Linked DNA regions of Homo sapiens. The gene in region 1 interacts genetically with each later gene. Each region holds a gene or a part of one and is shown on either strand. Other genes may lie near its edges.

Region 1 (5,767 bases):
AAGTATTTCTGAACACATTCATTTGATTACTTTTACCACGTAGACATATCTAAAGTTCCAATATGTTAATCATTAATTTAAAATAGTATCAAAAAAATAGGTAGTATCATCTTTTTAGATTTTTCAAATATTTTCAGAAGCCACTATCATAATTTTGGCATTGCTAGAATGATCTGATAAGGACAGCAGTAATATAAAAAAGGTTTAAAAAATAAAGGTTTATAAATGAGCTATATAATTTTTAAAAATGACACCTAAAATAACCATGGCATCTGTGCTTGCATGAGAAGCCTAAAATATAATAGGATACAGGGAAATCAGGTTTCCCTCTTGTCTATTTATAAATGAGAAAAGGAATATATCTTTACATTTTCAATACCCAAAACTTTTTGCTAGAACTGCTGGAAAAACTACTGCTATAAGATCAGGACAATCACCTCACAAGTCTTCAAAATTTCCCAAGTACTTAAAAAACATCTTTCAAGTTGCTGATGTCTTTAGGACTCGTTTCAAGGTCAATTTCTCACGTTTTGCTCTCAAAGTTAGAAAAACTATCGTTACTATTTACATCATGCCAACTCTACTCAACAGTTTATATAGACAAGAAAATGAAGTCTTATTTGCAATACTTTTTGAACAACTACTAGATTGTTATACTTCCTTTTAAAGTACCACGGAGTTGGTATTATCTGCTAGTGAACCGAGATTGCACCACTGCACTCCAGCCTGGGTGACAGAGACTCTGTCTCCAAAAAAAAAAAAAAAATTATTTTAATCTACCAAACACATGTATGCTATTTTAACTGCTGATCTTTAAAGTAGAATCATTGTAGTTAGGTATGTGTGTATTCTTCTGTATAGGTATTACCTGCTTTTACAGTGGGAACTTCCAGAAAGCTGGAACCCTGGGTGAGGAACAGGTCAGGTGTTTTTTAACCTGTGGCCCATGTTGGCCTTTAGAGGTAAGCCTCTTGAAATGAAATGCAAAACTGTATGTACTAGTGTTTATACTTCTCTCTAGGTTCTGGCAAATCTTCAAGGATAAACTGTGCAATAACTGGCATATTGATGACATGGCATATTTGTGTAAAACCAAGGTTACCTATATCTTCTTTTATCTTATATATAGCACTAGTTTTCCATAAGTCATAGCATCTTCAGCTTCATTTAAGATACAAAGCTCTTTATGTGATTTACTATACTTCTTCATGACGTTTTACTTAACAGAAAAGATGCTGTACATTATTCTCTGGCTTCCCTTCATATGGCAGCTAGTAGAGATTTGCTTCCTTAAATGCAAAAATAGTTTCTTTCACAGCTTCAGGAACATCGTGTTTATGCTCCTGTGACACTAAATCTCAAATCTTCTAGGTAGAAGAAAGAGTCCTTTCTTCAGCTAACATGAAATCTGTTACACTTAATGCAGATTCAATCAATTAAGTTCAAACTGAATAAAATAAAAAAGTATGGGAAAAAAGAAAAGTACCTTCCTTTATGTCTTTAGTGTCTGAATCAAAAAAAGAGAACGTGAACCCGCTGGGCTGCTCAGCGTCACTGGTCAGAGCTGCAGGGTCCTGGATTTCCTCAGGTTTCTCTTTACCACAGTCCTCATTCCAGGGTGTGCCCTCTTCCTTTTCACTGGTATATTTTGTAGTTTGGAATATTTCTTTCAGATCCATAGCAATATTATAATACATTTCTTTAGACACCTCAGGTAGTTTCTCAGCTTCCTCCCTTTTCTTTTTTCGTTTTGCTTTACTGAAATGACATATGTAGACATGTGCATCACAAAGAAACAAGTTTTGGGAAATTTCCAGAAATCAAGAAAAGAAAAAATCTTGGACAACTTTAATTCTATCCTATCAACAACCAGAATATAAAACTCTACTTATAAATAGAGAAATAAAATAAGTAAAACTCTACATATAGAACTCTACTAATAGAAGCAAAATCTTGATCAATAAGCTTTTTTTACACAAATCTCAAACAGCTGCATGAATCATATTCTATCATTCTCTGAACTACATTTCAGAAATTATGCCTAAACTATACACCTAGGTATAAGTAAGGAAATCACTTAGCTTCACTAGGCCTCAGTTTTCTCATAGGCAAAATGAAAACTGTAAGCCACATGACTTCTAAGATACTGGGAATTTTACCAGTAACTGGTAAAATTGTAAATCAGTTGTAGAAATTAATTATAAATATGTATAGTGTCTTTTGAAATGAAATTTTTATATTACCATAAATCTGCTCTGTATTTAGGAATGAATATGCTTTTCTCTTTGATCTGGGACAAAAAGTTACTTGGCAGTTTCCAATACTGAATTTTGAGCTAAGAAAATATTAAAATCCTTTTTCCTCGAAGACCAGGCCAAAGTTTGTAATGTACTACGTAAAATAATAAGTGAACAGGATATCCTAAATAACCATTCTTAGTGGTAGAGACCATATCAAAGAGAGAAACTTTTAGTATTTCGGTAAATAAACCAACCTCGTTAGGTTTTAAGACAGATATGCCTCTTAGGAAACCAAGCTCTATAAAAAATGGTAGGCAGTTCCAAGTGATTATCATTTAACCACCATGTGGTGGCTTTAAAATTTGTCCAAAAACTCTTTGTTACTTCTTCCTTCAAGGGGTGGAAGTTAATTCCCTCATCCCTTGAGTGTGAGCTGGACTTAGTGACTCTTTTAATGGACAGAGTAAGCCAAATGGGATGACATATAACTTCTGAGACTAAGATCACAGCAAAAGCTAGAAGGACCTTGAAAAAACTGTTAGTAGAAACCATATGGTCTTTGAGAAGGTTGCAGGTAAGGGCTTAAGAGAAAAATAAGGTAAATCCTATTGGAAACTGGAGAAGAGGGAATCCTTGTTACATGGTGGTAGAAAGTTTAGCAACACTGTCAACTGCATTGTGTGTACTGTGGAAAATGGAAAATGTACCTAATTAGCTGGGTGATCTAGCTAAGGAGATGTCCAGCGAAGTGTTAAAGGTATATTCTGGTTTCATCCTACTGATTACAGTGAAATAAGAGAGGAGAGAATGAAACTAAAGGGAGGAATTTTTTTTTTTAAAGGGAGCCAGGAATTCATGGTTTTGAAGACTCCTAATCTCCAGAAGGCAAATGACATGAAATTTAAGAAAGGGCTTCTAAGCAAAGATCAACTCTATGACAGCCTCAGAAAAACATGGTCTAAAGAAGGGGTTGGCAAACTATAGTCCATGGGCCAAGTCCAGGCTACTGCCTACTTATGTCTGAACTGCAAGTTAAGGAATTTTTTTTATCATTTGAAATGATAGGGGGAAAAACAAACATCATTTCATGAAAAAATTATATGAAATGAAAATTTCAGTGTCCTTTAATAGTTTTATCGGCACACAGCCTTGCTCATTTGTTTACATATTGTCTATGGCTGCTTTTCTTTTACAAAGGTAGAGTGGAGTCATCACAGCAGAGATGGTCTGGCCTGCAAAGTCTTATCTATTTACTATCTTGCCTGTCACAGAAAAAGTTATAGACCTCGGTCTAAAAATAAAACAAAATTCTTTGTTAAGACCCTAAAAAGAGATAAGAAGCTTCCAACTGTTACCCAGGAACAGTGGTGCACACCTGTATTTCCAGCTATGTGGGAGGCTGAGGTGGGAGGACCACTTGAGCCCAGGAGTTCAAGGCTACAGTGAGCTATGATTGTGCCACTGCAGTCCAGCCAGGTGACAGAGCAAGACCCTGTCTCTAAGATTATACAAAAAAGAAAATAAACTTCAATTGTTCAAACAATAGGGCTTCTATGGAGGTTAGAGGCATTATCTCTCAGCAGTTTCAGTAGAAGCCCAGGGTTAAAAAAACAACAAAAAAGGCTTATCTCAAAATGATTTGTGTGACTTTCATCTAACAGAGTGAATTCCAAGAAGATTCACAGATAACTTATGAAGATTTTAAGAGAATTATATTATCAGAAATACCACTAGACTGGACTGGTAGGTACAGGAACATTTCAAAATGAACAGGCTTTTGGACTCCCAAATTTCTATAAGCAAAAAGCAGGTTGAAAAAACTACTCAGCTGTAAACCTGTGCCAGCACTTATGAAAAGAGAAGGATGATCCAGAAAGCCAAGTCAACGGTCAGGAAGAATTATTCCTAGGCCCTCAGTCCTAATCAAAGACCTTCCAACATTTGTCTGTCTAGATTTCAGAGTTACTATGGACATGTGACTCCTTTGTGCCTGTTTTCTTTCATTGAACAGTACCTATAGTGGTTATCCAATGCCTGTTCCACCGCTCTATATTGGAGGAAGGGTAGATAACTTGCTTTTTTAGTTCATAGGTCTTATCAAACAGAACTGCACTCAAGGTACTGTACTCAAGGAATAACAGAGAAGCCTCATCTGTACTTAGATCTGATCTGAATGATGACATCCTGGATTTTGAGCTGATGTAAAGGGATGAGACTTCTTAGGGGTATAGGGAGGGGGTAAACATATCCTATTTGTTCAATACGGATTATCTGAAATAACACACATATATCCTACATTGGAGGGAATATTAATATTCTACTTTAGTCTAAAATGTGATTCTTTTTAAAAGAATAATTTTGGAACAATTTTAGGTTTACAGAAAGTAACGAAAATAGTAGAGTTCCTAAATAGCCTTCACTTTGTTTTCCCTAATGTAATTATGTGTGTATGTAACTAGGATATAATTGTCAAAATTAGAAGATTAACATTGGTAGATTACCACTAACTAAACTCAGACATTGTTTTGATTTCACTAGTTTCTCCACAAATTGTCCTGTTGTTTCAAGATTCAATTCAGGATACCACACTGCCTTTTGTGATTTTCGTGGCTATTAGCAGTTGGAAAATGAAGGATTTAAACCAAGCTGCTACTGGTTGCTCCATATATTTGCCATGTTTATCCAACTGACTGCACATCTATAGGAAACAGAAGCTCCTACCACACTAGATGGTTGAATGGTTGCCCCCCAAAAGCTATGTCCATGTCCTAATTCCTGAAACCTGTGAATGTTAACATTATTTAGATAAGGGGTCTTGCAGAGATATTAAGTTAAGGGTCCTAGGATGAGGAGCCCATCCAGGATTATCCAAGTGGGCCCTGAATGCTATCACAAGTGTCCTTATAAGAGGCACAAAGAGGAGAGACAGAAAAGAAGAGGCCATGTGAAGATAGAGGCAGAAATGGGAGTAATGTAGTCTCAAGCCAAGGAACACCAAAGGATTGGTGGCAGTCACTAGAAACTAGGAGAGGCATAAAACAGCTTTGTTTCCCTGAACCTCTAGAAGGAACATAACCTGTTCACTATCTTAATTTGGGACTTCTAGGTTCCAGAACTGTAAAGAAATAATTTTTGTGATTTTAAGTAACTAAGTTTGTGGTAGCTACAGAAGACACAAGAAACTAGTACAAATAAAAGGCATCATTTATACAAATAAAAGGTATAAATGATAGGAGTACATATCATTTATAGATTCCTCTGTTAAAAGGTAAGACCTCCTCCACCACATCAATAATTCCTTTCTAACTCTACCTGCACTACCCCTACCCCACCAATCTTAATACAGTGGGACCAATGAGTAGGATATTGGTTCCTACCTACATTTTTAATTGTCTGAAATGAGATTAATTTACATGATCCTATTGCTAAAAGAAGTAGCTCTACTTACCTTTCTTTTGGCTTATCATCTCTTTTTCTTTCGTAAGTGGCATGGTCTTGCTTCGTTGGATCATAATGTATGATGTCCC
Region 2 (4,633 bases), on another chromosome or scaffold:
AGTCTCCTTAAAGCTCATTGTTTTCACCGTGGGCCAGGCATTGCTCTACACGTTAACTCATTTGTTCCTTGCGACAAGCCCATCTCAGTTATAGGGTCACACAGATACTCTTCAAATCTAGGCATCCGAGCTGCAAAGCCTAGACTCATTACTACCATGCTGAACTGTCCATCAGTGTTCTGACTCCAAGTTAAGCACTCTTTCTTCCACACCCTGACATCTATTTTCCTTTTTTTTTTCTGGAATAAAAACTCACCAACCAGTGCAATACCAGAGAGAACAGATAGTTTTCAGGGGTAGAAGAGTGGGAGGAACTGTTGCCCCAACTTAGAAAATATCCTAAGAGGAGACACCTAGGGAAGGGAAGTAGTCCTGTTTCTGTGTCAGACCCTGGGTGCCCACACTCCCCATCCATAAGTTCTATTTTTATGTTTTTCAGTATCTTTTTTACACTCTTTTCCTGACTTTGAGAAAAGTCCTAGCTTTATACCGTACCGTTGTTTACTTTGAGGAATGCCTAGATATGATGTGGCTCTCTGCTACCTGCATTAGGAAACCTTTCCTTGCAGAAAATAACTATTTAGAATCAGGTGCACTTGTAAATTCAACAAACATACCAAAATGTCAAGCCACGTATTCCCTTGTGTTTATTAGCTACTCACTACCTCTCATTGTGATCAGCTTAACTTTCTAGCAGGCAAACATTGGCAAATGTTGGAAGCTTAGATAAAATTCATTAAAAACATAAAATTGAGGAAACACATTAAGCTAATTCTTGCTGGAGATGATGACCATTTGTAGTTGTTAGCAGTGGGCACTCAGGGTCACAAGGGAGGACCCAGATTCTGCCTCAGAACTTTGTTATTATTATTATTATTTTTGAGACGGAGTCTTGTTCTGTCGCCCAGGCTGGAGTGCATTGGTACAATCTCAGCTCACTGCAAGCTCTGCCTCCCAGGTTCCTGCCATTCTCCTGCCTCAGCCTCCCAAGTAGCTGGGAGTACAGGCACCCGCCACCACGCCCGGCTAATTTTTTGTATCTTTGGTAGAGACGGGGTTTCACCATGTTAGCTAGGATGGTCTTGATCTCCTGACCTCGTGATCTGCCCAGCTCAGCCTCCCAAAGTGCTGGGATTACAGGCGTGAGCCACCGTGCCCGGCCCTGCCTCAGGACTTTGAAACTGGTCAGGGGAGCCCTGAGTTGGAAGTGGGGGTGCCAGAGAAGAAAGCTAACCAGGCACCCAGCTCCTCTCAAGCCAAAGCAGCACTGGAGAATACTGGGTTCCTTATAGCTCACTTGAAAAAAAAAAAAAATCTACTACTGAAAAATTCCTGTCCCTTTGTCATGGTCTCCTCTTCCTCCAGACTCCACACGAGTCACATCCTCCTCTACCAAGCCATGCCCCACATGCCCTTTTCCATACTCTGGTTGCACCAACACTACACATTTTTTTGTTACTTTTGAATTAAGTCACAAATTATCTCCCAAACTCTAAGTGTAGTGATAGGGACTACACAGTGCCCTGTTCTTCACTCCTCTGCTCAGGACATACCAAAACCAGTGAATGGTTGCAGATTCAATTTCTAGAAATGAAATGAGCATCCTGCCCATTACTATAGCCACCCCTACAATCACTCGTTCGCCCACATATGCCAAGTTCCTGGGTAGGCCTTGGTATAAAACACACAGTCCTTGTCACCAGGGAACTGCCATTTAAGTGGAATGTGGACAAGTAAACTGACTGCCAGGGCACAGATGTGAAAGCAGGTCCGGGGAGGCTGAACCCTGCACCAGCTGGAGCGCAGAGCAAGGATGCCTACAAAGTTCTGAGAGCAAAGGTGGCCTGAAACCGAGCTATGGGGAAATATCAAGTTACAACAGTGATTTTTTTGCTTGATAATGGACCAGTCCATTGGCATGCTGTTATTTTTCTCTCATTCAAGGATGAATGAGGATGAGCATTCAAGGATGCTCAGGCATTTTTTTATTTTTTTGAGATGGAGTCTTGCACTGTCACCCGGGCTGGTGTGCAGTGCTCAGCTCACTGCAACCTCCGCCTCCTGGGTTCAAGCAATTCTCCCGCCTCAGCCTCCCCAGTAACTGGGACTACAGGCACACGGCACCACGCCTGGCTAATTTTTGCATCTTTAGCAGAGATGGGGTTTCACTATGTTGGCCAGGCTGGTCTCGAACTCCTAACCTTGTAATCCGCCTGCCTCGGCCTCCCAAAGTGCTGGAATTACAGGCGTGATCCACTGCACCCAGCTCAGGCATTCTTGCTCTGAGCTCCAGCTGATGCAGGGTTCAACCTCCCCTGGACCTGCTTTTACATGTGTGCCCTGGCAGTCAGTTTACTTGCCCACATTCCACTTAAATGGCAGTTCCCTGATGACAAGAATTGCGTGTTTTACCAAGGCCTAGCCAGGCACTTGGCATATGTGAGGAAATGAATCAACGTGGGGGTGGCTATAGTAAAGGAGAGGATGCTGTTACTTTTGTCTCATTCAAAAGCAAGCAATTACACAAACCTCTTGCCTCCACTCCTCCCCAGCTACCACCTCTTTTCTTGCTCCTCTTTACCATAAAACTTCTCAAAACAGTTGTCTAACTCTCCTCAATTCCACTCCTTTCATTTTCTAAATCCAAAAGGTCATGTTAGTCCTCATCTTAATTGACTCCTCAGCAGCACTTGAAAAAACCGATCACGCCTCTCTTCTTCACTTGGTCGCCAAGACACCTTACTCTTGGTTTTCTTCCTGTCTCTCCTGTGGCTGCTGCTTCTCAAGACTCCTCTGCTGGCCGGACACGGTGGCTCATGCCTGTAATCCCAGCACTTTGGGAGGCCGAGGTGGGTGGATCACCTGAGGTCGGGAGTTCGAGACCAGCCTGACCAACATGGAGAAACCCTGTCTCTACTACTAATACAAAAATTAGCTGAATGTGGTGGCACGTGCCTGTAATCCCAGCTACTCAGTAGGATGAGGCACGAGAACCGCTTGAACCCGGGAGGCAGAGGTTGCAGTGAGCTGAGATTGCGCCATTGCACTCCAGCCTGGACAACAAGAGTGAGACGTCTCAAAAAAAAAAAATAGCTGGGCACGATGGCAGGCATCTGTAATCCTAGCTACTCAGGAGGTTGAGGCAGGAGAATCACTTGAACCTGGGAGGCGGAGGCTGCAGTGAGCCGAAGCCATTGCACTCCAGCCTGGGCAACAGGAGCGAAACTCTATCTCAAAAAAAAAAAAAAGAAAAGACTCCTTTGCTGCCTCCTTCTCTTCTCCTTTTTTCTTTTTTTTTCTTTTTTTTTTTTTTGAGACAGGGTCTTCCTCTGTTGCCCAGGCTGGAATGCAGTGGGTGGCGCGATCTTGGCTCACTGCAACCTCTGCCTCCCCAGTTCAAGCCATAGTCTCCCACCTCAGCCTCCAGAGTAGCTGGGATTACAGGCGCCCACCACCACACCCGGCCACTTTTTATATTTTTAGTAGACACAGGGTTTCACCACCTTGGCCAGGCTGGTCTGGAAATCCTGACCTCAAGTGACCCGCCCACCTCAGCCTCCCAAAGTGCTAGGATTACAGGCCTGAGCCACTGTGCCCGGCCCTCCCTGATATCTTAAAGTTGGAGCGGCCCAGGGCTCTATCTTTGGTCCTCTTCTCTTCTACATTCACTTTATCCAGCTCAGCTCTTAAATGTACCCAATTAGTTCTTACAAATGCATTATCAAGACATCAATCATTTCTGTGGCTTTAAATACCACCTATATGCCAACCACACCCTAATCTATATCCCCATTCCAGAACTTTCTCCCAAATTCCAGACTCGTACATCTGTGCAGAAACGAGTTAACATAACAGGCCTGAGACTGCTATCCTTAGAATGCCTGCTTGCAAAGTTGGCCCTTGGCTAGTGTCTCAGAACTTGAACTTCACGAGGGTTCCCACAATTCCCACCTGGATAAGAGTGGCTCACTGTGCTGGAAACTGTACAATGTGATTCTAAACACCTGCTTTTTTTCTGGGCGGCGGAAATTTTGGCACATTCTAGGCAGACAGTGCCTATGTGACTTTTTATTGGAAAAATGAGCTCTACAAGCTTTCCTGATAGATCTCTCACGTCTTGTCATAATTTGATGCTGCAAGAATTAAGCATACCCCATGTGACTCCACTAGGAGAGGACTCTTAGAAGACTGCACCGGGTTTCCTCCAGACTGTGTCCCATGCATCTTTTCCCTTTGCTTATTTTGCTTTGTATCCTTTTGCTATAATAAATCACAGCTGTGAGTATGACTACGTGCTGAGTCTTTTGAGTCCTCTTAGTGAATCAATGAACCTGGGGACCTGCAACACAATAGCTGCCTATTTGACACCTCCACGTGGGCACATAATAAAGTCATTCATACGATGTCACTCCTTTCCTCAAATCCCTACCAAAGCACTCAGAGAACAGCAAAGTCTCTACGATGGTCTAAAGGCTCTATAGGATCTGGTGCTCCCTCAACCCCCATTTCCTCTCCAACCTCATCTGCCAATTTGACTCTTGCAAATTCAGCTTCAGCAACACTGGCATCCTCCCCTTAATTAAGCACTTACCATGTGCCAAGCACTAATCTGGGCACTAGGAATTCAGCAGAG

Evidence for each region. A genetic interaction does not mean that the proteins touch.
Region 2: changes in NOL8 (region 1) and MTRES1 together harm fitness less than expected from each alone (positive genetic interaction), as found in Homo sapiens cells (one large-scale study listed by BioGRID).

What each region holds. Positions count from the first base shown.
Region 1 is NC_000009.12:92,300,065-92,305,831, forward strand, and holds part of NOL8 (nucleolar protein 8), read right to left. Parts: intron 5,767-5,767; coding exon 5,689-5,766; coding exon of another isoform or gene 5,685-5,688; exon of another isoform or gene 5,684-5,684; intron 1,759-5,683; coding exon 1,487-1,758; intron 747-1,486; exon of another isoform or gene 743-746; coding exon of another isoform or gene 693-742; exon of another isoform or gene 1-692. UniProt on the Homo sapiens protein: Plays an essential role in the survival of diffuse-type gastric cancer cells. Acts as a nucleolar anchoring protein for DDX47. May be involved in regulation of gene expression at the post-transcriptional level or in ribosome biogenesis in cancer cells.
Region 2 is NC_000006.12:107,030,066-107,034,698, reverse strand, and holds part of MTRES1 (mitochondrial transcription rescue factor 1), read right to left. Parts: exon of another isoform or gene 4,595-4,633; coding exon of another isoform or gene 4,592-4,594; intron 1-4,591. UniProt on the Homo sapiens protein: Mitochondrial RNA-binding protein involved in mitochondrial transcription regulation. Functions as a protective factor to maintain proper mitochondrial RNA level during stress.